Linked DNA regions of Homo sapiens: regions 1, 2, 4, 5 and 6 are each reported to be linked to region 3. Evidence: microRNA targets listed by miRTarBase, many of them from high-throughput screens and not tested one by one. Region 3 holds a microRNA gene; each other region holds the end of a gene's coding sequence.

What was found. The annotated mature microRNA hsa-miR-939-5p reads UGGGGAGCUGAGGCUCUGGGGGUG and lies in region 3 at 1,869-1,892, shown strand. An mRNA with a match to its seed (bases 2 to 7 or 8) in the 3' UTR can be bound and repressed. Matches are read on the target gene's strand: a 7mer-m8 pairs with bases 2 to 8, a 7mer-A1 pairs with bases 2 to 7 and ends in A, and an 8mer does both.
Region 1: the mRNA of ZNF561 is a reported target of hsa-miR-939-5p. Seed matches in the 3' UTR shown: 7mer-A1 at 2,142-2,148.
Region 2: miRTarBase lists DUSP14 as a target of hsa-miR-939-5p. Seed matches in the 3' UTR shown: 7mer-m8 at 994-1,000.
Region 4: the mRNA of GTPBP4 is a reported target of hsa-miR-939-5p. Seed matches in the 3' UTR shown: 7mer-A1 at 2,318-2,324 and 7mer-A1 at 1,769-1,775.
Region 5: miRTarBase lists LIMD2 as a target of hsa-miR-939-5p. Seed matches in the 3' UTR shown: 7mer-A1 at 3,943-3,949, 7mer-m8 at 3,899-3,905 and 7mer-A1 at 3,798-3,804.
Region 6: the mRNA of MSI1 is a reported target of hsa-miR-939-5p. Seed matches in the 3' UTR shown: 7mer-m8 at 3,458-3,464, 7mer-A1 at 3,611-3,617 and 7mer-m8 at 4,014-4,020.

The regions. Positions count from the first base shown.
Region 1 is chr19:9,606,118-9,611,187 of GRCh38, forward strand. It overlaps ZNF561 (zinc finger protein 561), which reads right to left. Exons shown (of 6, transcript NM_152289.3): 6 at 1,212-5,070. The coding sequence ends at 4,083. Among named protein-coding and RNA genes, the nearest start is that of ZNF561, 13 kb to the right of the region's middle.
Region 2 is chr17:37,511,921-37,516,990 of GRCh38, forward strand. DUSP14 (dual specificity phosphatase 14) reads left to right here. Exons shown (of 3, transcript NM_007026.4): 3 at 261-1,578. The coding sequence starts at 353. The coding sequence ends at 949. It overlaps SYNRG (synergin gamma), which reads right to left. Exons shown (of 22, transcript NM_007247.6): 22 at 2,887-5,070. Among named protein-coding and RNA genes, the nearest start is that of DUSP14, 25 kb to the left of the region's middle. RefSeq lists a silencer at 588-978 and an enhancer at 737-1,250.
Region 3 is chr8:144,391,015-144,396,084 of GRCh38, reverse strand. It overlaps MIR939 (microRNA 939), which reads left to right and starts at 1,855; the gene lies at 1,855-1,936. It overlaps ADCK5 (aarF domain containing kinase 5), which reads right to left. Exons shown (of 15, transcript NM_174922.5): 5 at 5,029-5,070; 6 at 4,811-4,951; 7 at 4,611-4,724; 8 at 4,374-4,505; 9 at 4,219-4,302; 10 at 4,063-4,144; 11 at 3,915-3,993; 12 at 3,740-3,831; 13 at 3,388-3,640; 14 at 3,193-3,309; 15 at 2,843-3,116. The coding sequence ends at 3,011. It overlaps CPSF1 (cleavage and polyadenylation specific factor 1), which reads left to right. Exons shown (of 38, transcript NM_013291.3): 27 at 534-650; 28 at 730-820; 29 at 903-987; 30 at 1,062-1,203; 31 at 1,289-1,441; 32 at 1,530-1,706; 33 at 1,785-1,851; 34 at 1,925-1,972; 35 at 2,047-2,202; 36 at 2,289-2,418; 37 at 2,495-2,633; 38 at 2,720-2,854. The coding sequence ends at 2,767. RefSeq lists silencers at 177-390, 1,743-1,904.
Region 4 is chr10:1,016,470-1,021,539 of GRCh38, reverse strand. It overlaps GTPBP4 (GTP binding protein 4), which reads right to left. Exons shown (of 17, transcript NM_012341.3): 17 at 1,608-4,465. The coding sequence ends at 4,313. It overlaps IDI2 (isopentenyl-diphosphate delta isomerase 2), which reads left to right. Exons shown (of 5, transcript NM_033261.3): 4 at 643-773; 5 at 1,706-2,630. The coding sequence ends at 2,023. Among named protein-coding and RNA genes, the nearest start is that of IDI2-AS1, 3.6 kb to the left of the region's middle.
Region 5 is chr17:63,694,356-63,699,425 of GRCh38, forward strand. LIMD2 (LIM domain containing 2) reads right to left here. Exons shown (of 5, transcript NM_030576.4): 2 at 4,902-4,993; 3 at 4,673-4,714; 4 at 4,444-4,583; 5 at 1,533-4,356. The coding sequence starts at 4,943. The coding sequence ends at 4,197. MAP3K3 (mitogen-activated protein kinase kinase kinase 3) reads left to right here. Exons shown (of 16, transcript NM_002401.5): 16 at 1-1,950. Among named protein-coding and RNA genes, the nearest start is that of LIMD2, 3.2 kb to the right of the region's middle. RefSeq lists enhancers at 1-887, 949-1,018, 1,109-1,168, 1,209-1,308, 3,379-3,688 and silencers at 189-288, 4,649-4,878, 4,969-5,070.
Region 6 is chr12:120,341,330-120,346,399 of GRCh38, reverse strand. MSI1 (musashi RNA binding protein 1) reads left to right here. Exons shown (of 15, transcript NM_002442.4): 13 at 78-265; 14 at 768-830; 15 at 3,295-5,070. The coding sequence ends at 809. Among named protein-coding and RNA genes, the nearest start is that of PLA2G1B, 16 kb to the right of the region's middle.

The DNA.
Region 1 (5,070 bases), not on the chromosome of region 3:
CCTCCCAAAGTGCTGGGATTACAGGTGTGAGCCACCATGCCCAGCACGTAGTATTTTTCAGTAGAGATGTAGTCTCACTATGATGTCCAAGGTGGCCTTGAACTCCTGGGCTCAACTGATCTTTTTGCCTAAGCCTTCCAAAGTGCTGGGATTACAGGCCTGAGCCACTATTCCCAGCCTAGATTCTTATAGCATATAGATGGATAAAGAATTTAGAAAAAGTAGGAACATTCCCCAATACAGTATATGACAGTCATAATTTACATGTAAATATCATTCAGGGCCGGGTGCAGTGGCACACACCTGTAATCCCAGCACTTTGGGAGGCCAAGGCAGTTGGATCACGAGGTCAAGACATCAAAACCATCCTGGCCAAAATGGTGAAACTCCATCTCTACTAAAAATACAAAAATTAGCTGGGCGTGGTGGTGCATGCCTGTAGTCCCAGCTCCTTGGAGGCTGAGGCAGGAGAATCGCTTGAACCGGGGAGGTGGAGGTTGCAGTGAGCCTAGATCGTGCCACTGCACTCCAGCCTGGACACAGAGCCAGACTCTGTCTCAAAAAAAAAAAAAAAATCATTCAGGGACAAGAAGAAAAAAAAATTGCAGTTATTCAAACATAGCTCCATAACATATTAGTAAAGGTAATCAAATAGTCTTTTAAAATGATCCATTATGTCTCAGTTGGGCTTATCCAGGAATGCAAGGTTGATGTAACACTAGAAATGTAATAAATACAAAAACACATTTATTTTATTTTATTTCTGATGGAGTCTCACTCTGTCACCAAGGCTGGAGTGCAGTGGCACAATCTACACTTAATGCAACCTCCACCTCCCAGGTTCAAGCGATTCTCCTGCTTCAGCCTCCTGCGTAGCTGGAATTCCAGGTGCACACAACCACACCCAGCTAATTTCTGTATTTTTAGTAGAGATGGGGCTTCACCATGTTGGCCAGGCTGGTCTCGAACTCCTGACCTCAAGTGATCTGCCCATCCCTGCCTCCCAAAGTGCTGGTATTACAGGCATGAGCCACCACACCCAACCTGACCACATTTATTTTAGAGATGAGTCCTTCCATGCATTCATTCATTCGTTTTGTTTTTTGTTTTTTGAGATGTGGTCTTGCTATGTTGTCTAAGCTGGTCTAGAACCCCTGGGTTCAGGCCATCCTCCCAAGTAGCTAGAACTATAGACATGCATCACCACATCATTTCATTGAAGTATTTATTACATACCATCATTGGCCAGGAACAGTTCTAGGTACTTGAGTTCTAGCAGTAAATAAACATGATCATCACAGAGGATGCACAGGAAGCATTTAATAAATTCAAGAGGAATTCAGCCTCATGAATTATGAAATACTGGGAAATCATTCATCATGTAAAAACTGGATATAAAAAGAAACCTTTCCTGTAAGAGATTAGCCTCTTCAAAAAATAAAATAAAAACCTACAGCCAAGCCAATAAAATAGAGCACGTATCTCAGCAGAACTGCAGACAATTATGCTGGTATTACTGCTATTCATTGGTGGTGTGCTGGAGGTTGAAATTAGTCCAGTAAAGCAAGAAAATATATATATAGGTATAACCTAACGACTAAAGTGGAAAAGTAAGAGTCATTATTTACAGATTATGTGATTGTCTATGTGGAAACGGAAAAGAATCATATTAAGTACTTTGGACTGAATGATAACCCTGAAAATTCATATGTTGAAGCTCCAAATCCCAATGTGACTGTATGTGAAAATAGGGTTTTTTAGTTTTGTTTTTGAGACAGAGTCTCGCTCTGTTGTCCAGGCTGGAATGCAGTGGCTGCGATCTCGGCTCACTGCAACCTGTGCCTCCCAGGTTCATGCCATTCTCCTGCCTCAGCCTCCCGAGTAGCTGGGACTGCAGGTACCCGCCACCACGCCAGGCTAATTTTTTGTATTTGTAGTAGAGACAGGGTTTCACCGTGTTAACTAGGACAGTCTCGATCTCCTGACCTCGTGATCCGCCCACCTCGGCCTCCCAAAGTGCTGGGATTACAGGTGTGAGCCACCGCGCCCGGCCTGAAAATAGGCTCTTTAGAAGTATCGTGAAATGATGTCAAGAGATGGGTAGGGGGAGGGAGGGGGAGGGAGGGGAAGGAGAGAGATGGTGGGGAGAGAGAGAGAAAGAGGAGAGAGGAGAGAGGAGAAAGGAGAGAGGAGAGAGAGACCTATTTGTTGGTTTCCTTCCTGTGAAGACATGAGGAAGTGGGCATTTACATACCAGGAAGAGAGCTCTCGCCAGAAGTTGACCATGCTGGCACTCTGATCTCAGACTTCCAGCCTCGAGAAATGTGAGAATATAAATTTGTTTTTAACCTCATTTATTTAAAATTAACAAATTTGTAAGCCATTTGGTCTGTGGTATTTTGTGATAGTGGCCTGAGCTCATTAAGGCAGATTAAAAACAAACAAACAAAAAAACTAAAAATGTGAAGCAGATTTGAAACTGACAAATGAGGCTGGAAAAATTCTGATGTGCAAGCTGGAAGTAAGGTTGGTAAGGGTGATCCTGGTGAGGTGTCATTGGGGAATGAGGAACATGCTATTGGGAAATAAAGAAAATACAACCCTTGATACGAAGTAGTGAAGAACTTGGCAGAACTGTATTCTAGCACTTTGCGGAAGGTAGAGCTTGAGAGAGATAAAACTGGTTATGTATCACTAAGATCTGTACTTAAAGTGTTAAAGGACACAGGAAGCTTCATTCTTCCTGAGTGCTTACAGGAAAATGTGCTCAGAACAGGCCCCCCAAATTTGGACATAAACAGGCCATGAGAAACTGCCCATAAACAAAATCTCTGCGGCACTGTGACATGCTCGTGATGGCTATGACACCCATGCTGGAGGTTGCTGGTTTACCCGAATGAGGGCAAGGAACACCTGGCCCACCCACGGTGGAAAACTGGAAAACTGCTCAGGCATTCCTAAACCACAAACAATACCATGAGTGATTTGTGCCTTAAGGACATGTTCCTGTTGCAGATAACAAGCCAGAGCCTGTCCCTTTCTTTCTTGTAAGGAATACTTTTAGCTAATCTATAATCTATAGAAATAATGTTTATCACAGGCTTACTGTCAATAAATATGTGGGTCAAACTCTGTTCAAGGCTCTCAGCTCTGAAGGCTGTGAGCCCCGATTCCCACTCTGCACTCTATTTCTGTGTCTTTGTCTTAATTCCTCTAGAGCTGCTGGGTCAGGGTCTCCATGACCCAGCTGGTCTCAGCAAAAATGCAAAAGGAGACCTGAATTGCAGAAAAAATTGTTAAGGAAAAAGGAACCAGAACTTGGAGATTTGGAAAATTCTCAGCCTATCCATAATGCAAAAATTAGAAAACTTGTACTGAAGAGAATCCTCAAAGTGTGGCTGAACGATCATCTGATAAAGAGATCATGAGTGGGATTCATGGACTATATCAGCCACCTTGACAGAAGTGAGAAGAGAGACTGGATTATACTAGAAGAGACATTGCCACTTACATTGTGCCATCTAAAATAGACATACAAGGCAGAACAGGCAAGGCTGTCACACTTCTTAGATTTTACAAGGGGACACAGAAATAATCAGCTGTGAAAGGGCACTGGCAGTTATGGATGGTTTCATTCCTGACACGCTCTGCAGGATCCGTGGGATCAGAAGAGACCCTTGGAGGAGCATCTCTTAACAACCCACCTTTGGGGTCCTACATCATCTTGGCTTCTGGTAAATTTTGACATAAATGTGCCACACTGGCAGCCACTAACCAACAGGGGCTGGGGTCAATCTGCATGATTTATCTCATACACAACTTGTTAATGCTATGATCTTAGGAATCTAATCACCAAGGTGAGGCAGCCTGCAGTACTGACCTCACCATCCATGACCCTTCTTCACAGATGCCCAGACTCAGGCAACCATGATGTTGTATTCAGAACCTGTAGGTTTAATTTCAGACCCTCAGGATGGTATCTAAGGCCAATCCATGAGTCATTACAACCTCCAAAAGGCATTTAGGACAAATCTGATAATCTTTGGTGTCATTGCCAATAATTAAAGATGGCAACCGATGGGCTAAATGGTAACACTCATATCCTTGCATTCATAGGGTTTCTCCCCAGTGTGAATTCTTTCATGTCTACTTAGGCGTGAGGAAACAGCAAATGCTTTCCCACATTCTTTACATACGAAGGGTTTCTCTCCGGTATGAGTTCGCAGGTGAACATTAAGGCGTGAGGAATATAGAAATGCTTTCCCACATATCTTGCATACAAAGGGCTTTTCTCCACTATGAGTTTTCAAATGTTTACTACGACGGGAAGAAGTAATGAAGGTCTTCCCACATTCAACACATTCATAAGGCTTCTCTCCTGTGTGAATTCTTGTATGCTGAATAAGACTTGTGGATGTAGTGAAGGCTTTCCCACATTCCTTACACTGATAGGGTTTCTTTCCACTGTGACTTCGTATGTGTATAGAAAGGCCCGAGTACTGAGCAAAGGCTTGGCCACATTCCTTACATTCATAGGGTTTTATTCCAGTGTGAGTTCTTACATGTTCAGTAAGTTGAGTTGATCTAGTGAAGGCTTTCCCACAGTAAGTACACTTGTGTGGTTTTATTCCAGTGTGAATTTGAATGTGATCATTAAGGCATGAGGAATTTCTAAAGGATCTTCCACATTCTTTACATTCAAAGGACTTCTCTCCTTTATGAGTTTTCACAGGTGCATAAAGTTGAGAAAAATTAGTGAAGGATTTCCCACATTTCTTAGTCTTTTTGGATTTCTTTCCTGTATGAACTGCTACACACTGCTTTAGGTGTGAAGAAGCTGTGACAGCTCTCCCATATTCCTGAAATTCACAGAGTTTCTCATCAGTGTGGATTCCCATATGATTATCAAGGCTTGCAAAATACTTAAAGCCTTTTCCACATTCCTTACATTTGTAGGGTTGTCTTGCATTGAGAACTTCAAGATGTACAGCAAGACCTGGAGTTAGAGTAAAGACTTTTCCACATGGATTAAATTTGGAAAGTTCCTGTCCAGTAGAGGCTTCCTTGTGC
Region 2 (5,070 bases), not on the chromosome of region 3:
ACCCCCCCCCCACCCCACTTTTTTTTTTTTTTTTTTGGACAATCACCAGAGAGCTGAATTTTACATTGATTTCACATGTTTGTGTCTTAGGTGACTTTTCCCAACTGTTAATTGATAGAAAATGATTTGTCTGTATCCTTGAAAGATTGTACTGTATTATTTAAAAAAAAACCCTCTAATCTTCCCATTTGACAAATGTGACAGAAGGCTGTGATGAATCAGTAGCATTTAAAGTACTGACACATACCTGTATTTTGCAGGAAGGAGACTCTAATTTTGGATTCCTTGGTGGAGGAAAATAAAACACTCTGGTCTTGCCGCCAACGATGCAAGTGTGACTGCTGGCGTCTTCATGAGCTCCAGAGGTCACAGCACGCTACCAAGGACTCTCATGGCCCCTCGGATGATTTCCGAGGGAGACATAGGAGGCATTGCTCAAATCACCTCCTCTCTATTCCTGGGCAGAGGCAGTGTGGCCTCCAATCGGCACCTCCTCCAGGCTCGTGGCATCACCTGCATTGTTAATGCTACCATTGAGATCCCTAATTTCAACTGGCCCCAATTTGAGTATGTTAAAGTGCCTCTGGCTGACATGCCGCATGCCCCCATTGGACTGTACTTTGACACCGTGGCTGACAAGATCCACAGTGTGAGCAGGAAGCACGGGGCCACCTTGGTGCACTGTGCTGCAGGGGTGAGCCGCTCAGCCACGCTGTGTATCGCGTACCTGATGAAATTCCACAACGTGTGCCTGCTGGAGGCGTACAACTGGGTGAAAGCCCGGCGACCTGTCATCAGGCCCAACGTAGGCTTCTGGAGGCAACTGATAGACTACGAGCGCCAGCTCTTTGGGAAGTCGACAGTTAAAATGGTACAGACACCTTATGGCATAGTTCCCGACGTCTATGAGAAGGAGTCCCGACACCTGATGCCTTACTGGGGGATTTAGTGCCACTGAAGCCTGCGTCAGCAGCCCGAGCGGGGCCGGCATCTGCTCCCCGCCGTCTGCTCCCTCTCCACTCTCTTCTCAAATGGCTGACTTCTGGTTCTCCCTCAAGTGTTTTTTACACTGGGTGTTCAAATTTATTTTAAGAGATAGGGAGGGAGGGGACATAAAGGGAATGCATACATTGCTAGTCACATTTTTAAAATTAACATTTTGGAATAGTGTTTATGGAAATCTTTAGCTTTTAATCATTTTTACCAATTTGAACAGTTTAATAAACTGGTTCTGCTCTCTTCTGAATCTCATGCCTTTGGCACCTTGGTAGGTGCAGGAGGAGCTCAGTGCAAAAATCACTTTGGGGCCTCATTAACCCTTTAGAGACAAGCTTTGCCCCAGGCTGCGGACCAGACAGATGCTTAGGGAAGGTTGATAACCAGCTTCAGTCTCTACTGGATTAGCCCTACTCTTTCCTTTCCCCTCCATTATTTAGTGACTCTGTAAGTAAGTTAAATACACCCTTATTATTTAGCTGTTAAGTAACTATAATGAAATCTGCTGCAAAATCTCTCTTGGAATCCATGTGCCCAGGATTATATTAGCATTATTTTTAATAAATCTATATGCTTAACATATTAGAATTTTTACTAATAATTTCAAGGTGTGTGTGTGTCGATGATGGGAAAAAGGTGCTCTCCAGTAACTAACTAACTAACTGCTGAAATGTGGCTCCTGTGCCAGTTGGGAACATTACTTAAAATACACATCCCAGCAGAGTCTTGTCGGCGCGTCACATCCTGGTGGACAGGCAGACACACCGTCCCCGGTGCTGGGCCGGTGGGAGATGATTGATAGTGCACGCTCTGATCAGGGGTGCTGGTTTTGGTTTCCTCTTGGTTAGTGGAGCGCCCCGAAGCAGCGTGTCCTCCATCAGAGAAACTGGTTTTCAATAAAAGGTGCCTCTGCTTGACTATTATTACCACATACGAAAATGCCCTAAACCAAACCTCAGTATGAGCGATAAGCAAGTAACAAAAACAAACAATGGCTGCCTTTGTTTAACTTTGGGACTGTCTGTCACCCAGTTCACTGCTCCTGATAAAACGGGCAGCACCGCTCATCATCATCAGATACATGGTAGAAGGTGAATGAGCTCGCCCCTGTCCCACTCCTGGGACACTCCTGGGCACTTTCCACGTGCCCCCAAGTAACCACTGTCCTAGGGCATGCCTTTCTTCTGCATGGAGGGCATCCTGGGCGTCTGCCCGTGCAATGGGAACCCGCTGCGGCACTGCTCTTTGGCTTCATTTATCAGGAAGGTTGTAGCTTGCTCACCAGAGGAATAGTTTTCTAGATTTTTTGGGTCAGTTTTGGCAGGAAGCCATACATAGGCCAGTAGCTACATATTTAGACAAATATACTCCACATTTTACCTGGTTTGTGGCAATGGTTTTTTCCCATCTAAATTCTACCTTTTATTGCTTTATACCCGTGGCTGCCCACTGTTATAAACATGCATCATTATTCTCTAGAAAAACTAAAATGAAAAAAATTATTAATAGTTTCTATGGGAAATCAGAGGAAACAACAAATGCTATAAGATCAAAAAAAAAAAAAAAAAAAAAAAATCCAGGGAGGCTCTGGCTGCTTTAGTAGGAGGCTCAGCTTTGAGTCTGGGAGTTTCTGAATAAGAGCACCCAAATAACCATTGTCCTAGGGCGAGAAGACACCTGGTGACAGATGTTCTTGGTAATTAATGAAAATTACCTGTAGAATTCCTGGCAAGCAGCACTACGGGGCTGTAACTAAGAGTTCCTCGCACGTGGGAAGCTGAACACCTTTGTAATCTTAAGCGCATGGGCCCCTGTTCATCCTAGTGACTTGCATCTATGTGAAATCAACCCAACAAAGACAAGACCAAGAAAAGGCTTAGTAGCCTGACATTCTTCTACACTTGTATTTTGGTTAGAGAAGTTTAACAAGGGGTGATTTCAGAACAGACCCTGAAAATATTTTAAAGGTAAAGCTTTATAATGTCTAAACACATCAATTAGAGCAGTTGTTTATTAAAATACAAACAAGGGAGAAACCACACCATCTTTTAAAATACAGGCGCGAATTCCACATCACGCAGAAGACAACGCATTTCGCTAAGGGCCACAGCATTCACTGGTTAATAAAGCCACAGCTACAAAGTAATGAGATGTCCCACATGAATACTTTTTAACCACTTACATTCACGTCAACATATAAATAATGGAATTAAGTAAAAACTTCATTATAATGCTATTTTGTTAGAAAAGTATTTGTAAAGTGGCATTTTTCCCCCAAGAGCTGTTTCACTTAAGCTTTATTTCCTCGGCCTGGCAAGGGGAGGGCTTTTCAGTATTGTTATTTGGTACACACTTACCTGAAGAAATAAGTAAGTAACTTAAACATAAAAAACATAGTCGACACACATCTTGCCCTGCATTCTGACATTTGCTGGAATGGTCTACAGCAGGCTACAATGCTCCCTTCTGAATGGCAAATGTCTGAAAATGTCAGTTTATTAACTGTTCACAAAGGCAGGCATTTGACCTTGAAGGTGTTAAAGGGAATTTTTTATTTTTGAGACAGAGTTTCGCTCTTGTTGCCCAGGCTGGAGTGCAGTGGCGCGATCTCGGCTCACTGCAACCTCCGCCTCTCTGGTTCAAGCAATTCTCCTGCCTCAGCCTCCCGAGTAGCTCGGATTACAGGCACCTGCCACCATGCCCAGCTAATTTTTGTATTTTTAGTAGAGACAGGGTCTCGCCATGTTGGCCAGGCTGGTCTTGAACTCCTGACCTCGGGTGATCCACCCGGCTCGGCCTCCCAAAGTGCTGGGGATTACAGGCGTGAGCCACCACGCCCGGCTAAAGGGAATTTTTGTAGTGGTCCCCAGTACAGGGCCAGCATTTCCTATTTCTGTAACATACAGCCCTATAATCTTTGCAAAGCTGAAGTACACTTGAAATAGGCAAACAGAAGACACCTTTAAACAAATAAGACCCCCCCAAAACCCTTCAAATATGTATATGTACACAAAATATTCAAATAATTAAAAATTCACAACCCCTATGGAATGCTAACTAGTAGCCACAGGAAAAATAAAGCATGGAAAATATCCTCATATATCCAGTACCTCTTCTATCTCAAGCATGTCCAGACAAAAATTAAATTACACACTAAGCCATAAAAATTTTAAAGGCAAAACATCCCACCAAAAAAAGAAAAGTGCTTATTAATGGCCATTCAAGCAGTGGGGTGAAGCGGGCTGACACAATGCACAGTATGGAAATAAGTAACCTTGGCTACAGTTTCCAAGGACACGGGGCTCCTGGCTGACAAGAAGAGCTGAGGTGAAGCTGAATGCAGCGTTGAGCCATTTTAATAAACGTTTATAAAGAAAAGCAGCGCAACCGTGTCCCACACTCCTTGGATCCCTATTGGTGGCATCTAATTAAACATTTCAAGTATTCAAGAGATATGAAAGGTAGTGAATACTTTTCATAGCAAAGGCTTTTTTTCTGTTGACATCTGCTGAATTTTCCTGTGGCACCTCCCAAGGAGTGACTAAGCCTACCATCCTTGGTAAGGAAAATGGGGATTATACTAAGGAATTTTATCTGAGGCATTCTGGAATTTCTCAGGAATAGAAACCAGCCCAGCTACCAAGTGAGCTTTTTAAAATGTTGATACTGGGCCACTGTGACATGACAGGCATCTATATAGCATTTCAAAAAAATGCTTCAGCAATACAAATTCAAACTGGGAAACTTTTTTTTTTTTTTTTTTAAGAGACAGTGTCTCGCTCTGTCATCACCTACGCTGTCACGTGCAGCCTCAAACTCCTGGACTTGTGATCTCCCGCCTCAGCTTACCTAGTAGCTGGGACCACGAATGTCCACAGATGCACTCCACCTACCCGGCTAATTATTTTTTGTATAATTAGCTGGGGTCTTTACCATCATGCCCAGGGCTGGTCTCTAACTCCTGGGAAACATTCTTATTGCAAAGGTAGATTCTGCTGTCATGGTTCTGTTATGAAATTTAGGCCAGGCGCAGTGGCTCACGCCTGTAATCCCGGTACTTTGGGAGGCTGAGGC
Region 3 (5,070 bases):
CCTGGCCTCCACACTTCTCAGGAGAGCTGACGTGAGTGCTAGCTCTGCCCCTTGGCTGCTCTGTGACTTTGGGAGGGCACACAGGCTTTCTCATCCTGGTTCCCTATTTAAGCCACCACACCACCAGGTCACTTGAGACCCTGCCTGGGATGCGGTGAGTGCTTCCTGGGTGCCTGAGGACTCAGGACTGTCCATGAAAGAGGGCAGCCCTGGCTCCCTCTGCCTGGTTTTCAGTCCCCAGCATGGCAGTCTGTGGGCTGCCCTTTGCAGCCTCCAGTGCCCTCCTGGCCTAGCTTTCCCATCCCCTGTGGCCAGCACCCCTAGCCCCAGCTGAGCGTGGGAAAATGGACAGGAGGAGCCCCAGAGGCTGAGTGGCAGCCCCTTCCAGGACCTCGCCAGGACACAGCTGCCCCTCACCCACCCCTGCTCCCACAGAGCTGAGGGCAACATCCCAGGGCTCTTGGCGGCCTGGGCCTGCCTGCCCCTGCCCTTGGCTAGCCCTGGATCCCCTGACCCCTGTGCCCCCACCCCAGGGCGAGCTGAGGATCAGTGTCCTGCCTGCCTACCTGTCCTATGATGCCCCATGGCCTGTCAGGAAGATCCCGCTGCGCTGCACGGCCCACTATGTGGCTTACCACGTGGAGTCTAAGGTCTGCCCCCACCCCCACCCCACCAGGGACCTTCTGGGCCTGGCCGGGCCACTGGTGTGTGACCCTCACTAACCCACAGGTGTATGCTGTGGCCACCAGCACCAACACGCCGTGTGCCCGCATCCCACGCATGACTGGCGAGGAGAAGGAGTTTGAGACCATCGAGAGAGGTGGTGACGCCCACACCATACTCCCATCCTCAGCCGCATCTTGGGGAAGCCCTACTCTGACTGTCACCCTTGGTCCCCACAGATGAGCGGTACATCCACCCCCAGCAGGAGGCCTTCTCCATCCAGCTCATCTCCCCGGTCAGCTGGGAGGCTATTCCCAATGCCAGGTGAGGCTGGGCCGGCGGGGGTGGGGTCTGCCCAAGGCCTCCAGGCAGCATCCTGAGGCCCCTGGCCCCCACAGGATCGAGCTGCAGGAGTGGGAGCATGTGACCTGCATGAAGACAGTGTCTCTGCGCAGTGAGGAGACCGTGTCGGGCCTCAAAGGCTACGTGGCCGCCGGGACCTGCCTCATGCAGGGGGAGGAGGTCACGTGCCGAGGGCGGGTAAGGGGCCAGTGAGCGGGGGCGGGAACTGGCAGCCCCTCTGCCATCCCCACAGCCATCCCACAGCCATACCCATGCCCTCCAGATCTTGATCATGGATGTGATTGAGGTGGTGCCCGAGCCTGGCCAGCCCTTGACCAAGAACAAGTTCAAAGTCCTTTACGAGAAGGAGCAGAAGGGGCCCGTGACCGCCCTGTGCCACTGCAATGGCCACCTGGTGTCGGCCATCGGCCAGAAGGTGTGCCAGTCCCACCCGGCGTGTGTCCCCCGGCTCACCCTCACCCGGCTCCCCGTCCGCGCCCGCTCACCCTCGCCCTCGCCCCCAGATTTTCCTGTGGAGCCTGCGGGCCAGCGAGCTGACGGGCATGGCCTTCATCGACACGCAGCTCTACATACACCAGATGATCAGCGTCAAGAACTTCATCCTGGCAGCCGACGTCATGAAGAGCATTTCGCTGCTGCGCTACCAGGAGGAAAGCAAGACGCTGAGCCTGGTGTCGCGGGTACACCTGTGGCGGCGGTGCTCGTGTCTGGGTGGGTACCCGCCCAAGGCACCTCTGACGCCCCCTTCCCGCCCCCAGGATGCCAAGCCCCTGGAGGTGTACAGCGTGGACTTCATGGTGGACAATGCCCAGCTGGGTTTTCTGGGTATGTGGGCAGGGCCCTGGGGAGCTGAGGCTCTGGGGGTGGCCGGGGCTGACCCTGGGCCTCTGCTCCCCAGTGTCTGACCGCGACCGCAACCTCATGGTGTACATGTACCTGCCCGAAGGTGAGTGCTTCCTCCACCCCCTCTGCCTGGGCCGGGGCTGGGCTAGCAGTGACCCCTAGGCCTTTCTGGTCTAGCCAAGGAGAGTTTCGGGGGCATGCGCCTGCTGCGTCGGGCAGACTTCCACGTGGGTGCCCACGTGAACACGTTCTGGAGGACCCCGTGCCGGGGGGCCACTGAAGGGCTCAGCAAAAAGTCGGTCGTGTGGGAGAATAAGCACATCACGTGGTTTGGTGAGTGTGGGGGAGCAGGTGTGTCTGGGTGGGGGGCCCTAGGGTTGGCCTGGCTCACACCAAAACCCTCACCCTACCCCTGCCAGCCACCCTGGACGGCGGCATCGGGCTGCTGCTGCCCATGCAGGAGAAGACCTACCGGCGGCTGCTGATGCTGCAGAACGCGCTGACCACCATGCTGCCACACCACGCCGGCCTCAACCCCCGCGCCTTCCGGTGAGCCCCGGCCCCGCCCCCGTGCAGCACCCCCTCCACCCCAGCCTGCCCTGACACCTGTGCCTGTACGCCCCAGGATGCTGCACGTGGACCGCCGCACCCTCCAGAATGCCGTGCGCAACGTGCTGGATGGGGAGCTGCTCAACCGCTACCTGTACCTGAGCACCATGGAGCGCAGCGAGCTAGCCAAGAAGATCGGCACCACACCAGACATAGTGAGTGCGCGCCCCGCCCCCCGCGCGCCCCGCCCCTCCGTGTGCATCCCCACCCACCCACCCACCCACCCTTCCATCCCCTGCAGATCCTGGACGACTTGCTGGAGACGGACCGCGTCACCGCCCACTTCTAGCCCCGTGGATGCCGTCACCACCAGCACACGGAACTACCTCCCACCCCCTTTTTGTACAAAACACAAGGAAAAACATTTTTTGCTTGAGAGGAGTGTGTGGTCATTACACGGCCTCCTGGCCCAGCTGCTGTCACAGCCCCCCAGTGCGAGTGCCCACGGGGCTCGGGGTGTCTACACCTCTAGCCCCGCCACCTCCGTCAGCCCAAGGTGAAAAGGGCCCCGCCGGCCCTGGGCGGCTGCACCCTAGGTCTCCAGGTACTGGTAGAGCTCCTCCGCTGGGGGCACGAGGCTCAGGTGGACCAGAGCACGAGCCAGGAGGGCGGTCAGCCGCATGGCCAAGGTCTCCAGCCTGCGTGGGTCAGGTCACAGGTCACAGGTGGGTGGGGAGCAGGCCCCCGCCACCCACCTGCCCCGCGGCCACTCACCTGAGCGCCACTTCAAACTTGAGCATCTCCCAGACGACCTTGGCGTGGCGCAGGAGGCTGGTGCCGTAGACACCCCGATACGTGGCGCCCGCCAGGCGGCTCCAGCCCCGGACAGCCCTGCACACACCCGCGTTAGCGCCGCGTCAGCCCCACACCAGCCCCACCACGGCCCGGGCGCCTCCTCGGGCCACCGACCTTTTAGCCATAAGGAAGTAGCGGTCCACGGGGGCGCCGAGGGCCACGTTGATAGCGCGCACGGTGTTGATGTTGCGCAGCACCAGCAGCATGGGCCGCGGCAGCTCCCTGAGCACCGCCATGACGGCCTCGAAGCGCTCGCGGGCCATGTCCACCATGTAGGCCGCCTCTTCGCGGCTCAGTAGGTGCGAGCCCCACAGCTGCCCCAGGCGCACGGGGCGCTGCATGAGCATCTCGGCGAACAGGAGGTAGTCTGGGGAGGGAGGGAGGGAGGGAGGGAGGGGGCTCTGAGTGGGTTCCGCGCCGCCCGACTCCCTTCTGTGGTGCCCCAGCCATCCCCGCACGCCCTCACCTTGCACCCCCAGTGCGGCTGCGTGCGCCCTCATGGCGGCGTCGTCCCGCAGGATGATGGCCCGCCACAGCTGGCAGAGGGCTGCGCGGTCCCTGGGTGTGGATGGGCCCGCAGCCATGAGCTCCCTGCGGCAGGAGAGGCTTGCCCTGCCCCACGCCCACCCACCCGCGCTCACTTCTCCTCCAGGAACTGGTAGAGCCCGTGGTCCAGCAGCACCAGCTCCGCTTTCCCGTCCGGGCCTTTCCGCACCAGAACTAGGGATACAGCCTCTTAGGTCGCGCTGCGCCCACCCTGAGACCCCCACCCCTGGGGTAAATTCCTACCGTTGCCAGGATGTGGGTCCGAGTGGATGAAGCCGGTGTAAAATATCTGCTCAGCAAAGGCCTTGATGAGCTTTTCTGCTATCTGGGGAGAGGAGAGGCATTGCAGTGGACACAGCACCAGCCCGCCCTGACCCGCCCCCGCCCCCCCGCACTCACGTCATGCACTGCCAGCCCCTGGCTCCTGATGGCCTCCACATCGTTGACCTTGCAGCCGGCGCAGAAGTCGGCAGTGAGCACGCGCTGGGGAGAGCAAGAGGCTGGGCTCAGCAGGCCCAGCGCTGTGCCCACCCCAAGGGCCTGGCCCAGCCCACCTTGCTGGACTTGTCCCAGTGCACGCGGGGCACCACGACGTAGGGGAAGTGCGCCAGCTCCCGCGCACAGCGCTCTGCGTTGCGGCCCTCATTCTCGAAGTCCAGCTCCTGGGCCAGGGTCCCCTTCAGGTCCTGGGGGCCAGATGGCGGTTGAAGACCAGCTCTGCCTACCAGCTGCTCCTACCAGCTCTGCCTACGTGTTTGCTCCTGCTGGCCGGGGAAGGGGTGGGGCTGTACCTGGAGGACCCAGCTGAAGCCAAAGCTGGGGTGCATGACCTCAACGAGCCGCAGCAGGAGCTCCAGGGTGTGGATGTCCCCATCAAAGCGGTCCCGCAGGTCGATGTACTGCACCTGCACTGGGCGAGGGTGTGGTGAGAACTTGGGGCCCCACTGTGCCCCGCCCCAGCCCACTGCTGAACAAGGCAGCCCCCATATACCTTCACAGCCACGCTGGTGCCATCGTGCAGCTTGGCTCTGTGCACCTGTGCCAGGCTGGCGGCAGCAATTGGCTGGTAGTCAAACTCCTGGAAGAGCTCGTGGGGGAGGGCCTGGAAGTCCTCAAGGAACAACTCATCCACCTGGAAGGACAGGTGCTCAGAGCAGCCTGGGGCCACTGCTGGAGGCCCCACCTCCCTCGGCCTGAGCGCACACTCACCTCCTGGAAGCCCCGCTTGAGGGCCCTGTCCTCTAGCACGCG
Region 4 (5,070 bases), not on the chromosome of region 3:
TCAACTTCAGCCAAACTCCTTGCAGAGTGACCGAAGGAAGCACTGAGGGTCTGAGGAACGAGAGGGAACAGAGATTTACTGAGGAGAGTGTGACCTCCCGTCATAGCGCTATTGCTGTTACTTGGGTAAATTAAGTAGAACCTCTCAGTAAGGAAACTTGGTCAAAGGTATTCCAGCAGTCTTCCTGTGAAACCATGCTCACTGATCACCACCCTCAAAGTGCAGCCCAGCTTCCTCAGCCCAGCTGGTGCAGCCACCCAGCCCACAGCCCCACCACCTCCTCCCGCCACCCCATGGCATCTCAGGTCCTCTGTGGGTACAAAACTGAGTAGGAACCAGTCCCTCTCCTAAGACATACTGGGATAGTGCCACGGGACATGTGTGTGCACATCTGCAGGAAGGGCCGCAGGAGCGGTCAGGGCCAGCCCCGCCAGGTGGTCATGTGGAAGACCCTCACCAAGCCCACAGCCGTGGAGGCTGGAGGCGAGTGCTGCTCTGAGAGCCCATGACAAACCCACTCCCCCCGCCAGGCTGTCTTCTGCTGATGACGGATGATGGTTTTACATGAAGCATCTGCATTTGTATTTAATATATTCACTTTTCAGGAATAAAGAGGGATGTTCCCACATGCATTTTTTCCAGGGTATTTTACCGACTCCTGTAGTAGCCACCCATTATACAACCCAGCAGAACTGGAAGAAAAGGATGCCATCGGAGTGAGGAGGGCAGCCCAGAGGCGTCTGCAAGCAGAGCTGGGAATTCCTGGGGAGCAGGTACACACAGCATCCAGTCTCAGCTGTGTCCACGGGAGTCCAGGTTGGCAGCGGGCAGACGGTGAACAAAGTCCAGGCTGGATCTACACCATTGACCTCATGAAGCACCATGAGGATGAAGGATGGGGCTGTGGATGGGGCTGTGAATGAGCTGTGAATGGGGCTGTGAATGGGGCTGTGAATGTAGCTGTGGATGGGGCAGTGTGAGTCCCTATGTGTCCCAGGCAGGGTTGAGACTGTGCAGGAATCTGTCGACCACACACCGAAGAGGAAATTCAAGCCGGGCGTGGTGGCTCACGCCTGTAATCCCATCACTTTGGGAGGCCGAGGCGGGCGGATCACAAGGTCAAGAAATCAAGACCATCCTGGCCAACATGGTGAAACCCCGTCTCTATTAAAAGTACAAAAATTAGCTGGGCGTAGTGGCACACGCCTGTAATCCCAGCTACTTGGGAGTCAGAGGTTGCAGTGAGCCGGGATTGTGCCACTGCACTCCAGCCTGGCGACAGAGCGAGACTCCATCTCAAAAAAAAAAAAAAGAAAGAAATTCAAGTGTAGAAAGAATGTCCAGGATCCTGTGAGCATGTGTTACCTTCATCCACTCAAGAACACGTTTAAGAGAGGATGGATGTTCTCCTGACAACGCTAGCCGGTTTCTACGGGGTTTTCTGTTGAGGATGTGTGTGTGACACGGTTAGTTCTTTAAATGAAGACAGACAGGTTTACTGGAACCAAGAAACCAAAGCCGGTTTATCATTCAGACTTGAGTCCACAAAAATTTACTTAGCTAAAATCGAGGTTTTGGAAATTATCAATTACCAAAGAAAGTGTTCATTTTCTGAGGAAAACAAATGTGTTTATTTTCTCTATTTTTCTGTAAATTCTGTGTTTTACATTAGCGTTGTTAACACTGCACCAATTTCTGTCAATAGATTTCTCCAGAGGACATTGTGTTCATGACAATCTATCACCACAAGGCAAAATCAGACAGAATTTGGGGAGAGCATGAAATTTGTTACCTTCTGCTTGTGAGGAAAAACGTCACTCTGAACCCGGATCCCAGTGAAACGAAAAGCATCCTCTACCTGTCCCAGGAGGAGCTGTGGGAGCTGCTGGAGAGGGAGGCGAGGGGTGAAGTCAAAGTCACCCCCTGGCTAAGAACCATTGCCGAGAGGTTTCTGTACCGGTGGTGGCCTCACCTGGATGACGTGACCCCGTTTGTGGAGCTTCACAAAATACACAGAGTGTGAGAGGCAGGGAGGTCGAGTCAGCCATGTGTAATGCCCTCAGTGCAGGCAGACGCACCATTGAGGCAATGATACACCCTCTCCAAAAAACAGGGCAAAAGGGGCACTTGATTGCCCATCATGTATAAATCACTATTTCAACCTTTTCATCAACTTTGTCATATCTTCATTTTCCCTTTTCCTTATTTCCATATTTCTCATCTGCCTGGTTGCAGGGAGGAAATTTAACATTTCCTTTGTCCCAATTTCCATTTTATAAGCACTTGTTTGATTAACAGCAGCTGATCCTGAAAGTCTTGGGGAGATCTTGAGAGTCCTGAAGCAGGCGGACTAGCCTGGCTGGACCATGAGGCTGTCTCCCCACAGCTTTATCCAAGCCTCCAAGGTCAGGATGGGATCTCTGTATCATGTTTTTCTTTTTAAATCACTTATTTCAGAGTGCAACACAAGGCTGCATTTTTAAAAAAAAGACACATTCAATCTTGCATCCTAATACAAGCAGTACGGAAGATGCGTATGGTCTCAGCCAAGTGACTCGACGTTTATCCACTTCTGTTCATTTGATCGTTTCAGTAATATGCTTACAAATAAAGACATACTTGCTTTAAAACATACTGTTGTTGTTTAACACAAAGTAAACTATATGTTAAGTTTTGGTGTTTAATACGGAGAAAGAATTTCAAAAACCAGACCTGGTATTTTTTTTTTTTTTTTGAGATGGAGTCTCGCTGTCGACCAGGCTGGAGTGCAGTGGTGCGATCTTGGCTCACTGCAAGCTCCGCCTCCCGGGTTCAAGCCATTCTCCTGCCTCAGCCTCCCAAGTAGTTGGGACTACAGGCGCCCGCCACCACACCCAGCTAATTTTTTGTATTTTTAGTAGAGACGGGGTTTCACCGTGTTAGCCAGGATGGTCTCGATCTCCTGACCTCGTGATCCGCCTGCCTCGGCCTCCCAAAGTGCTGGGATTACAGGCATGAGCTGCCGCGCCCGGCCATACTGTTGTTGTTTAACACAAAGTAAACTATATGTTAAGTTTTGGTGTTTAATACGGAGAAAGAATTTCAAAAACCAGACCTGGTATTTTTTTTTTTTTTTTCACACGGAGTCTCTCTCTGTCACCCAGGCTGGAGTGCAGTGGCACGATCTCGGCTCACTGCAACCTCCGCCTCTGGGCTCAAGCAATTCTCCTGCCTTAGCCTCCCGAGCAGCTAGGATTACAGATGCCCACCACCACGCATGGCTAATTTTTGTATTTTTAGTAGAGATGGGGTTTCACCATGTTGGCCAGGCTGGTCTCGAACTCCTGACCTCCTGATCTGCCCACCTCGGCCTCCCAAAGTGCTGGAACTACAGGCTTGAGCCCCTGCGCCCAGCCCAGCCCTGGTAAATTTTTAAAATTGCCACATGTAATCCAGAAGTGTGATTAACTAAAGTCCTTTCCTCAGCTATAATGTTGATTGTGTGACTTGATAACTTATCCGTGGTGGCTCTTGGACCCCTGTGTGTCTTTGGAGCTCCAGGAGCACACGGACCCCTGGGCAGGTCCCTCCGACCCCACAGCTCTTCACCCCAACGCTCCCCAGCAGGTGCTTTTGAGGTGGCATTGGCGGTGTTTTTGTGTTTTACTGAACATGTAACTTCAGGGACGGGCCACAGAAATAGGAGAATGCCCATATTTAATTGCCTAATGCCTCCAGCAACATTTTACTCCCCCAAAAGTATTTTTGCTTTAAAACAAAATAGAAATGTCATGTTGTTTGCCTTTTTATTTGGCCAAATCCATAGCGACTATAACTAAACCAAAACATGAGCTAAGTAAATGAAAACTACTTTCTTCTGGAGGTTTATTTTGGATAAAATAGTTGAAGACAGACTACAATGAGACATTGTAAAATAAGACTAGAAAATAATTTAAGAGCGTATTTTAAGCACGGGATTCCGACACACTCATAAACGTGTTTGCTCCCAGCTCTTACAAAAGAAAATAAGGTTTTTCTCCATCAAAAACAACCTAGTTAAACCAGTAAATCTTCCCAGTTCTGAAAATCTGAAGCAACTGATACTCCATTAAATGTGGAAACACTGTCTACTCAAAATATTTGTAATATTATGCAGTGACAAAAATTTCCCACACCTATATAGGGTTAACCATAGTTTTCAGCAAAGCAACAAGTGCTTTACTTATTTTGTCTTTTTCAGTTTATACAGAGCTCCAATTTCATGAAACCATACTGTGCCAAACCAGGAAATAAACAGCAACACTCTAGCGAAGCCACGCCAACCAAACGGATACTATCTCCTGTCCTTTTTACCAGCTTTCCTCTTCCCAGACAGCAAGTGCTTGGGCTTCATATCAAACACGTGTCTATCCGCCTCCCCTTTCTTCCCCAACCGATTCATCTTCTTCTGAGCATTCTTCATCATAGTCTTGGCTTTCTTCACCATCTAAAAGGAGGAGAAAAAAATAAAGTATGTTCATTACTTAAAACCAATTTTCCATTCTGAATTTCAACTACTGGGTAACAATCTGTTTAATGGCTCAGGTCTGCTCAGCGAAGAGACCCTGTTACATCTCTTTTCTCTTAAGCCCAGCACAGTTATCCCTGTTACATCTCTTTTCTCTTAAGCCCAGCACAGTTACCCCTGTTACATCTCTTTTCTCTTAAGCCCAGCACAGTTACCCCTGTTACATCTCTTTTCTCTTAAGCCCAGCACAGTTATCCCTGTTACATCTCTTTTCTCTTAAGCCCAGCACAGTTATCTGCAGGAACTCAATGAGTATTTTTGTATAAAGACTGGATGAAAATCATACCCAGGACAAGCTTTATACCCAGGACTAGATACACTTTAGACCTAGAAGGTTAGCACACATCTGTTTTAACTCCCTCTTACACAAGCTAAGGACTCAGGCCCATGAACCTGTTTTCCTCAGGTCTGACTGACAAGTGGCAATGCCAATATTAACAGCCAGGTTTCAAGATGGCAATGGCACAGAGGAGTGAAGCTCAGGCTTCCATGAAGGAGACTGCAGTTTATACACAGACTCTCCT
Region 5 (5,070 bases), not on the chromosome of region 3:
AATGTCATGCTGCCTTATTCAGGGAAGGAGGAGCCTGTCCTGCCTGTGGCCATGACCCTGCCTCTCCCAGGCAGGGGCCCGCGATGTGGAACTGCTGCCACTGAGGGGGGATCCAGTTTTGTCAATGCAGTTGTCTCTGTTTTACAAGTTGGAGTCACTCTTATGCTGTACCCAGTTTCTAAACTGGAGACTGTGTGTGCCCTCTGGGCTCTGAGTACCCCTGCTTTGGGCTTGGGCCTAGGCTGCATTGAAAAGAGCTGAAGGTTGTGGCCTTTGCGCTCCTGGCCCAGCCTTTGTTCCCCACTGGAGCAGAAGGGGAGATGGACGACACGGTCGGGGCATCTGGCCTGGCCAGTGCCCTGATCCCAGAGAGCCCGAGGAGGTGTCTCAGGCTGCCTGAGTCGTGACCTGCTAGGCCAGAGCCCACTCCATCTGGTAGAAGGGAAAGCCCATATGCTACCACCAGCTGTGTCCAAAACCGCCAGCTCTGTTCTTCCTCAGCCAGCCTCGCCCATCCCCTTGAGGTCTCAGCCCCTTTCCCTTGTAGCTCCTCCCCTGGAGGGGGAATGGCAGCAGGGGTTGGGGAAACAGCATCTCCAAGCAGCTTAGAGTTGGCCATATTTACCTCAGCCTGGGCGCTGGTCCTTTCTTCCGGCCCCTCCCCTCCAAAATGTGCCTATTGCTAGAGCTCCTCCCTCTCAACACCCAGTTTCCTTGGGAGTTGTCATTAAAGGAAAAAAAAAAAAAAAAAAGCCAGTGCCCAGGGATGGGCATCTCCAGGGAGCTGGGGATTAGTGCCAGGCAGCCCTGCCAGCCATGCCTACATCCCCATGGGCACAGAACAAGCCAAAGCCTTCGTTGTATGTTGACGATGCACTTTTATGAATGTAGTTTCTATCGCTGTTTTTAGCCTTTTCACATCATGTAATGTGAGGCCTTGTACTTGTTAATTTATATCTCAGATCATATTTGATGGTTTTTATATATATCAATTCTAGACTGTTACAGGTGACGGACGCCTCAAGAGAGAGAAGAGAAAATGAAAGCAGCTGGTTTTGCAGAAGTGTGTGTCGCATGCGCCAGTTGGGCCTGGACCCTCCTGTGTCCATCCCTGTTCCCCCAGGGGCTCTATCAGCCCCTGTACCCCACACTGCCCTCTGAAGACAACACAGGCTCCTGCTTCCACCTCGGCCCTTGCCCAGGGTGGGGCCTGGCCCTCATCTTGACCAAAGCTGCTGTGTGGCAGCTCGGCCTCTCTACGACCCCATCTTGGTGGCTGCACACTCTTCCTGGCCCGCACCCCCATCCCCAGTCCCTGTTCCCCAAGAGGATACAGAGCACGGTGCTGGCTGACTCAACTGTGCGTCCCAGGTTCAGGGTCTTACAGAGCTCCACCCCCTGGGGTCTTACCTCACTGGGAATGTGTTTTGAAAATGAATTTGAAGACAAGCCAACAAACCCTGCACTCCAAAAAAGCAAAACAGACCCTAATTTTTTTGTGCCAAAAACTGTGGACATGCTGGCTCAGCATCCTCAGGACCAAGTTGTTGCTTAATTTATTGTTTTTTAATAACTAATCCAGATAAAAAGTTGTGGGGCTTCAGGGTGACCTGGGCCCAAAGGTTCTGAAGGGCAGTTCCTGGCAGCCCCAGGCTTGCTGTGGGAAGGGGCCGTGCCGTCACTTTCTCATCATTCCATGGGGTGTGTCTGCCTGGGCCAACTCTGCATGGAGAGGCCAGGGCTGGGGACAGTCCGCACTCTGCCACCCTCCTGCCCCTTCCACCCACCCCAGCTCTATGTCTGTGTCTGAATTGTGGATCGTGCAGCCATGGTTATTGTGGAACTGTGGAACCTGCAGCCATAGTTATTTGACTATATCTTGACCGAGGGCTTGCAGTGCAAAGCCAGGCCAGTGTTGCGCATTACTTACAATAAAAGGGATCATTTATATCAGAGGGGTCCTGTGGCAGTGCTTTCAGTTGTGGGGGGTGGAGGTAGGTTTTTGCTTAGCAGGGGCCAGGTATGGTGCCTGGCAACGAGCCTGGGCCTTTCAAGCAGAAGAGAACTTGACTCCAAGTAGAGGGGTCCTGGGGTGATCTGGCTGATACCATTGTCAGTCCAGAGGTGTCTGCCCCTTTCCTCCAGTTGCCCCTCCAGGAGCTCCACTGGGGTGGTCCCAACAGGGCTGATTTACCAGGGTGGCACTGCTGGCCCTCACAACCTGAACGTCACCAGTGGCTGAGTTCCCGGAGCTTTCATGATATTTGGTAGGGTCTTCCTGGCCCAGAGGACTTCCTTCAGTCCCATCTTTGCAGGGCAGGGGTCAGGTGTCTCCAAGAGCCACCTCTCCAGTACCCCCTTGTGGTCATCTGCTACTGTTGCTTAACCGAACCAAGATGATCCTTGCCATCTGAGACCTCTGGTGCAGGAAGTTGGCCTGCCCTGAGAGGCTCTGAGGCGCTCACTTCACACTTGGGAGGATCCAGGCCGGGGCACCATCTCTGCTGAGTATTCGCTCTGCTCCCTCGAGGAGCAGTGCCTGCCTCAGCATAGTGACTTATGTGACACTGGAGCCTGTGGCCCAGCTCCCTGCCCTGTTCCACGGGGAGGCCACTTAGGAACTCAGGCAGTTGTATGGTGTGGTGGCAGCAAACCCTCCAGGAGTCTCTGTTCTCATCGATCCCATGTCTGGAGACATCAGGAAGTTGAATCTGGAGCAGGACAACCCAGACTTCTGCCTGTGTCCCACCGGGGCGCCCTCAGGTCCTCCCAACTTGCCTGGTTTGCTCTGCTGTGAACTCATCCCTCATTGTCCCTGGGTTTTCAGAGAAGCAGAGGTAGTTTCTCTTTGGATTTCCTGAGACAGTAGCTGTGACTGCACCTCCGCAGAGCTTGAAAAGGCAAGGGGATGATGACAGCAGCGAGGGGTAATGATGAGGGGGGACAATCCAGGGGTCACTAAAACCTTGGGCAGCACTTGCTGGGTCTGCTGGTTACCGCCATTCTTCGCTAACTTACTTCCAGGTCAAAGGGCTGGGAAGAAGGGAGGGAGCTAGACAGCTGGAACCAGCCAGGGAACGCGGCAGCTTGCACCCCAGGCACTGAAGTGCAGCGAGGACAGGCGCCATCACCCACTGGCAGCCTGGCCCTCCCGCTCTCAGGCCTCTTCACAATGGGGTGCATATGGTAAGTTGGTGGGTCTGAACCAACCCAGAACTGAGGGGTGAGGTGGAGTTTCAGTTCCAAAACCACTGTGGGTGTGACAGCATGAAGCCCTCGCTGTGAAGAGGAGCCCTCCCATTTCTCAATGGTGTGTCAGGGAACTGACACCCACTTCTAGCTCCCTGCCCCCATCAGGGCCGAGGTAGTCGGGGCTGGCCCTGTCCCCCCATGCCCGCCCCATGGTGAGTCTGCACCCTTCCTGTGACAGATCCCCCAGCAGGCCACACAATAGAGAATCTGGATCTATTGAAACATGTTTAAAACGGGGTTGGTCACAACAGGATGGGCACAAATGGGAGCGGGGGAGGGGAGTGGGGCCGCACCAGCCCCTGCCAGTGCCTGAGGCTGCAGCCTGGCGAGTGCTTTTGCTTCTGCTTCTCCACGCTGGTGGTTCGAGATGGTCCCAAGCCCCACTGGGGCAGGCCCTGCCTTGCCCTGCAGAGGCAGGGTGGCTCCACTTCCCCATCTCCTCCCCCATGGGCTGCAGGGGCATTTATGATGCCCAACAGGTGGCACTGTCGCGCTCCTTCCTCCCTGTCTCCGTGGCTCAGAAACAGGTTAAGGGTAGAGGTAGATGGGGAGACGTGGGGGCCACACAGTCTCCGGTGGCAGTGAGGGAGCTTGGGACCCTGAGGGGGGCATGCTGACTCCTTGCTGGAGAAAAGGCACCTAGATAGGGGAGCTGGGCTTGGGGGCCTCCCAGGGGGTCCTGGGGTGAGGTGGGGAGGGAGGCTGAACGAAGCAGGAAGCAGGGTGGTGGGCAGACCCCAATCCTGGTTTCCAAACCCTCACCGGCTGCGGGAGAAGGAAGAAGGAAGGAGTCCTGGAGCAGAGCCCTGCCCTGGTCCCCTACGCCTGAGCAAGCCTCATCCCCTTCCCACCTGGCCCCCACGCAAGCCCAGCTCGACCTCCTTCCCACCTTCCCCCTGCCGGCTCCAGGCCTTCCGCAGAGGGGGTGGAAGGTTACAGAGGCCTCAGGCCGTCTTGGTGCCGGGGTCCACCTCCTTGTGGGCCCAGAGCTCCTTGTGCTGCTTGCGGCCAAACCCCTCGTCGTAGTTGCCTTTGCTCTTAAACAGCTGCTGGAAGTGGGGTTTGCAGTAGAACTCCCCGTGCAGCGCGGCGTAGCTGCCCAGGCTGCAGAAGCCAAACAACGGCGTCAGGTCAGGTCAGGTCGGGGCTGGGTTGGCAGGCGAGGCGGGGGCGGGCAGGGCAGGGGCGCACCTGAGCTTGGTGTGACAGTGCTTGCAGCAGAAGCAAGAGTTGTGGAAAATGAGCTTGTCGGCCACCAGCCGCTCCATGGGGTACACGGTCTTCTGGCAGGCGGCGCAGGTCTCCTTCACCTGGGCCCGCAGGCTGAAGGACTGTGCGGGAAGCTCAGCCAGGTGCTGCCCCAGTGCTCATCCCGCTCCCTCACACCCCTCCTCCCGCACACCCGGCCCCAGGCCCCTACCTTGGAGCGCTGCACCGTGCTGCTGCCGCCGCCTTTGGCGTCCTGAGGGAGAGGGGCGGTCAGGGCAGGGGCAGCTCCGGGAGGCCCTGGATCAGGGCTGCAGCCATCAGCCCAAGGCCCAGGGGCGCGCCGCAGGGCACAAAGGGGGCCGGCAAACTCTGATGCCTCTCCCCTTCACCCCAGGCCAGGCTCCTGTCCGGGGGGCCCTCCCACCCAGCCGGGCACTTACATGAGAGGGGGTGGCCTGGGCGGCTCCTGCAGCCTGGAACATGGCTCGTTGGAGGTGGAAGCCTCGGGTGGAGAAGCGGCACCCGCTGGGTTCTGCAAGGGGAAGTCAGTCGGGAGGGCCCCGCCAGCCCGGCCCCAGCCTGCAGGGTGGGGGGTGTTGACAGGCAGGG
Region 6 (5,070 bases), not on the chromosome of region 3:
GTGGGACAGGCTTGAGGGGGTGCCGTGGGGTGGCAGAGGGCACCAGGGCTATCACCGTCTTCTTTCTGGGTTGCCAGGCTCTCACCCCTGGACGATGGCTCCCCCTCCAGGTTCGACTCCCAGCCGCACAGGGGGCTTCCTGGGGACCACCAGCCCCGGCCCCATGGCCGAGCTCTACGGGGCGGCCAACCAGGACTCGGGGGTCAGCAGTTACATCAGCGCCGCCAGCCCTGCCCCCAGCACCGGCTTCGGCCACAGTCTTGGGGTGAGTGGCCAGGCCTAGCGGCCCCCACCTCACCCCCCACACCTTGAGAGACCCCCAAGTTGGGGAAGGGAGAGAACTTCTTTGTCTCTGGGGGCAAAAGGAGGGTGAGGGAGGATGAATGGAGAAAGATCACTAAGGAAGAGTTGTGGGGGTTATCATTCATTCAGTGGGCACTTAGTTATCGCCTCTGAATGCCAGGCATAGTGGGCTCTAGGTGCAAATGAGACACATGGCATCTCTGCTCACATGGAGGTTTGATTCCAGGGGTGCCCTGGTTTTATCCAGGGTACGGTTTGTGCAGATTCCCTGGCCCTCTGTTGGAGAATCTTTGAGCAGACCTGCAGTGGGGGGTGATCCGGGTAGGCAGACCTGCAGTAGGGGGGCGATCCGGACAGGTAGAGAGAGGTCAGCGCCTCACTTCAGATGTCCTGCAGAGAGAGAAGGAGCCCCTGATCTTCCTCTATTTCCCAGGAATCTAGGAGTCAAATTCTTTCCTTTTCAGGGCCCTTTGATTGCCACAGCCTTCACCAATGGGTACCACTGAAGCAGGGGACGGTGGCAGGAGGTGAGGATGTGGGGGTGGGCAGGTGGTGGGGTGGCACTGGGGAAGCCTGTCCTGGGCCATCGAATCTGGGACACAGACCCCATCCCTGCCCTCAAGAACCACAGTCCCAGGGGAGACAGATCTTTATACCAGCTGTGGTCAATAAAGATGAAAAGCTGCTCACCCTACTCCATTTAAACACAGAAATCAAAGCAACAGTAAGGCTTCACATCCCACCTATCAGGTTGGCAAAGATTATTATTATTATTATTTTTGAGACAAGATATCGTTCTGTCACCCACACCTCCTGGGCTCAAGGGATCCTCCCACCTCAGACTCCTCCCGAGTAGCTGGGACTGCAAGCACCTGCCACCATGCCTGGCTAATTTTTTTACTTTTTTTGTAGAGACAGGGTTTCACTGTGTTGCCCAGGCTGGTCTCAAACTCCTGGGCTCAAGGGATCCTCCTGCCCTGGTCCCCCAAAGTGCTGGGATTACAGGTGTGAGCCACCAGCGCAGGCCACAAAGATTTTTTAAGATCGTTTATTATTATTACTATTATTTTATTTTATTTTTGTAGATGGAGTCTCGCTCTGTCACCCAGGCTGGAGTGCAGTGGCGCAATCTTGGCTCACTGCAAACTCGTCCCCTGGGTTCAAGCAATTCTCGTGTCTCAGCCTCCCGAGTAGCTGGGATTACAGGCATGTGCTACCGCACCCAGCTAATTTTGGTATTTTTTTTGTTTTTAGCAGAGACGAGTTTTGCCATGTTGGCCAGGCTGGTCTCAAACTCCTGGCCTCAAGTGATCCATCTGCCTCGGCCTCCCAAAGTGCTGGGATTACAGGGGTGAGCCACCGTGCCCAGCCCTATTATTATTATTTTTAATAGAGATGTGGTCTCACTGCCACCCAGGCTGGAGTGCAGTGTGCAATCACAGCTCGCTGCAGCCTGGAACTCCTAGGCTCAAGCCATCCTCCACCTCAGCCTCCCAAGTAGCGGGGACCACAAGAGCATGCCACCATGCCTGGCTAAGTTTTTAAAAAATTTTTTTGTAGAGATGGGGTCTCATTATGTGGCCCAGGTTGGTCTTGAACTCCTGGCTCAAACGATCTTCCTCTGCCTTGGCCTCCCAAAGTGCTGGGATTTCAGGCATGAGCCACCGGGCCCAGCCACAAAGATTTTTTAAGTTGAACACTGCCCAGCATTGATCAAGATATGGGAGAAGCAAGTAAGTACAGTGGCTCAGGGGTTCCCGGGGCAGTCTGGCAGTGTTTGTCCCAGTTTCAAACATTCATGCCCTTGGACCCAACAATTCCACTTCTAGGCATTTATTTTTAAAACTGCAAATAACTGAAATATCCATCAAAAGGAAAGTGGTTAAACAAATTAGTGTGTGTACAGTGGTATAGTACACAGCTATCAAAACAGGATACCTTGGCCGGGCGCAGTGGCTCACGCCTATAATCCCAGCACTTTGCGGGGCCAAGGCAGGCGGATCACCTGAGGTCAGGAGTTCTAGACCAGCCTGGACAACATGGTAAAACCCCATCTCTACTAAAAATACAAAACTTGGCTGGCGTGATGGTGCGCACTTGTAATCTCAGCTACTCGGGAGGCTGAGGGACAAGAATCGCTTGAACCCAGAAAGCGAAGGCTGCAGTGAGCCGAGATCAGGCCACTGCACTCCAGCCTGGGCAACAGAGCAAGACTCCACCTCAACAAACAAAAAACAACAGGATACCTCGACTTGTGGGACTGTGTACACGGCCATCACAGTGTCTATCCAGATGGTGGGAGACTGTGAGCCCATGACATTCTGTTCATTCACCCATTCATTTATGAGCCCCATTCCAGGAAAGAGGATGAACAAGACAGACAAAGTCCTCTCTCATTTCACAGGACAAAAATCAAGTGAACATATGAGATAATTCCAGACTGTGCATGACAGGGCTATTTTAGATGTGGGGTTTAGAGAAGGTATCTCTGAGAAGGGGACATTTAAATAAATCCAGCCATTCGAAATCTGGGGAAAGAGGCATCCAACCAGGGAACAGAAAGTGCAAAGTCTGGCTGGGTGTGGTGGCTCACATTCGTAATCCCAGATCTTTGGGAGGCCAAGGCAGGAGGATGGCTTGAGGACAAGAGTTTGAGACTAGCCTGGGCAATATAGTGAATCCCCATCTCTGCTACAACAACAAAAATGAGCAGAGTGTGTTTGCTTTCACCTGTAGTCCCAGATACTACCTGTAATCCCAGAGTCTCAGGAGGCTGAGGCAGGAGGATCACTTGAGCCTAGGGAGGTTGAGGCTGCAGTGAACTATGATCGCTGTCACTGCACTCCAGCCTGGGCAACAGAGCTGGACTCTGTCTCTAAAAAAATAAGAAGAAGAAAGTAGGTAGTTTACGAACAAAGCTCTTCTGGGAGAGAACTGGGGAGGGCTGCGTGTGCTCCGGGAGCCCCCATAACCTCCTGGCTGTGTTCCCAGCGCCCCAGCCTGCAGCTGACTGAGGACCACGAGTGAGCCAGCGAGGGGGCGGGAGACCTCAGCCGCAGCCGCCGCCCCCTCCCCTGCAGCGACTCGGACCCGCTACTGCCTGCCCCCAACTCCCCGGGCCCGGCCCCTGCCCTGCTGCCCCCAACAGCGTCTGGCTCCCCTACTAACGTCCCCCTCTTCGCCCTTGCCCCCATCCCCACCCGCCCCTCTCCCGGCCCTGCTTTTATTTATTTTGGATTAGCCGGTTGCCCACCCCAGCCCTCTGGTCCATCCCTCCCTCCGTGCCGCGCCCCCCTAGGACCGCCCCCTCCCCAAAAGGCTTTTGGATTTGTGCATAGCTGGAGTGAAGGCGGAGGGAGCCTGCTACAGGCCGCAGCCCAACCCCTGTTTTTTATTCAGATTTCCCCTCCTTTACCCTTTCCCTTTTTTTTTTTTTTTTTTTTTTTAAAGAAACCTTTTTTAAACTATTTCTAGGTTTGTGAATGTGAAGCCCCAGGCCGCAGGGGGCAAGGGGCCAGGTGCCCCCCACCAGCTGAGAACAAAGTGTCTATCTGGGTGTGGGCCCCTGGCCGCCTCCCTCCAGCCCTGGAGAGGAGGGCAGGGCTGCGGGGAGGCCAGGCCGAGCCCCTGGAACCATCCCGTCCTGTATCATATGTAAATACTGTGAGGTGATGTGCCCACCCCTCTCTAAGACCCCTCGGGGGTGAGGGGCTCCCCCCTCCCCTGTTTCTGTCCCCTCAGACACCGTTACTGTAAGCTTGCAGGCCTCAGCTGTGGCCACGGCAGGCCCGCTCTCTCAGGCCCTCAGGGTCAAGGCCTTGGTTGGACCTGCCCACTCCAAAAACCCAGTGTGGGGGCAAAGGGCGTGGGAAGAGCAGGGCTTGCCCAGCGACACTGCTGGACAGGAATTAACTCTCCAAAGGTCTCCCCTGCTCCCTACCTAGGTTGGGGCTTCATGGTTTCTGCTCAGTCTGTCCCCCTTCCCCCTCGACCCCCGCAATGAGTGGGCACCAGGGGACGCTCTGGCGAGGGCAGACCCCAGGGGAAAGCAAAGGGCGTCTCAGGGAACCCCCACATTCTCTCACTGAAGTTTCCCACCAGGATGACCCCACAGCCAGAGTCCCTTGGCAGCCCCTCACCCCAGACCCCCCTTCTAAGGAAAAAGAGAGGTTCAGAGCGTTGGACCTTCATGAACAGTGGCCTGGCTGGCGTGGCAGGGCCAAGGCCCACCCACTGCCATCCCCCTTCTGTGTGTCCCTCTCCCCCAGTTATGAGGCCCAGGGCCTGAGCTCTCTTCCCCAGCATTGCCCCCACCCGGAAACCCCACCTTTGGAGAGTTAATTGTCTGTGTGAGGTGCTTAACCTATCAGCCCTGAGAACACAAAGCAATAATCTTTGTTACTGAGATGCGCGGCTGTTCGTGTTTTGGGTTTTTTTTTTTTTTAATGTTTCCTAATAAAAGAGAAGCTGCATTTTATTGGTTTTTATTTTTAATTTTCTACACGTTTGAGCTGAGTCCTGAGACACTTAGCTTCCCTCTCCCTCATTCCCGGACCCTTCCACCCCACTGGGCCCAACCATGGGCTCAGGACCCTGGAATTCCGTTTTCTGATTTGCTTTGGGATTTTTTTTTTTTTTAAGATGTTACATGGTGTTTCGAAGCCAGCAAGTTACCATCCTCCGGTGTCTCTTCTCTCCACATCTGTAACTTCTTTTTCCAGGTTTTATTTTCAGTTTTAAATTCCTAATAAATTATTTGAAAACGTT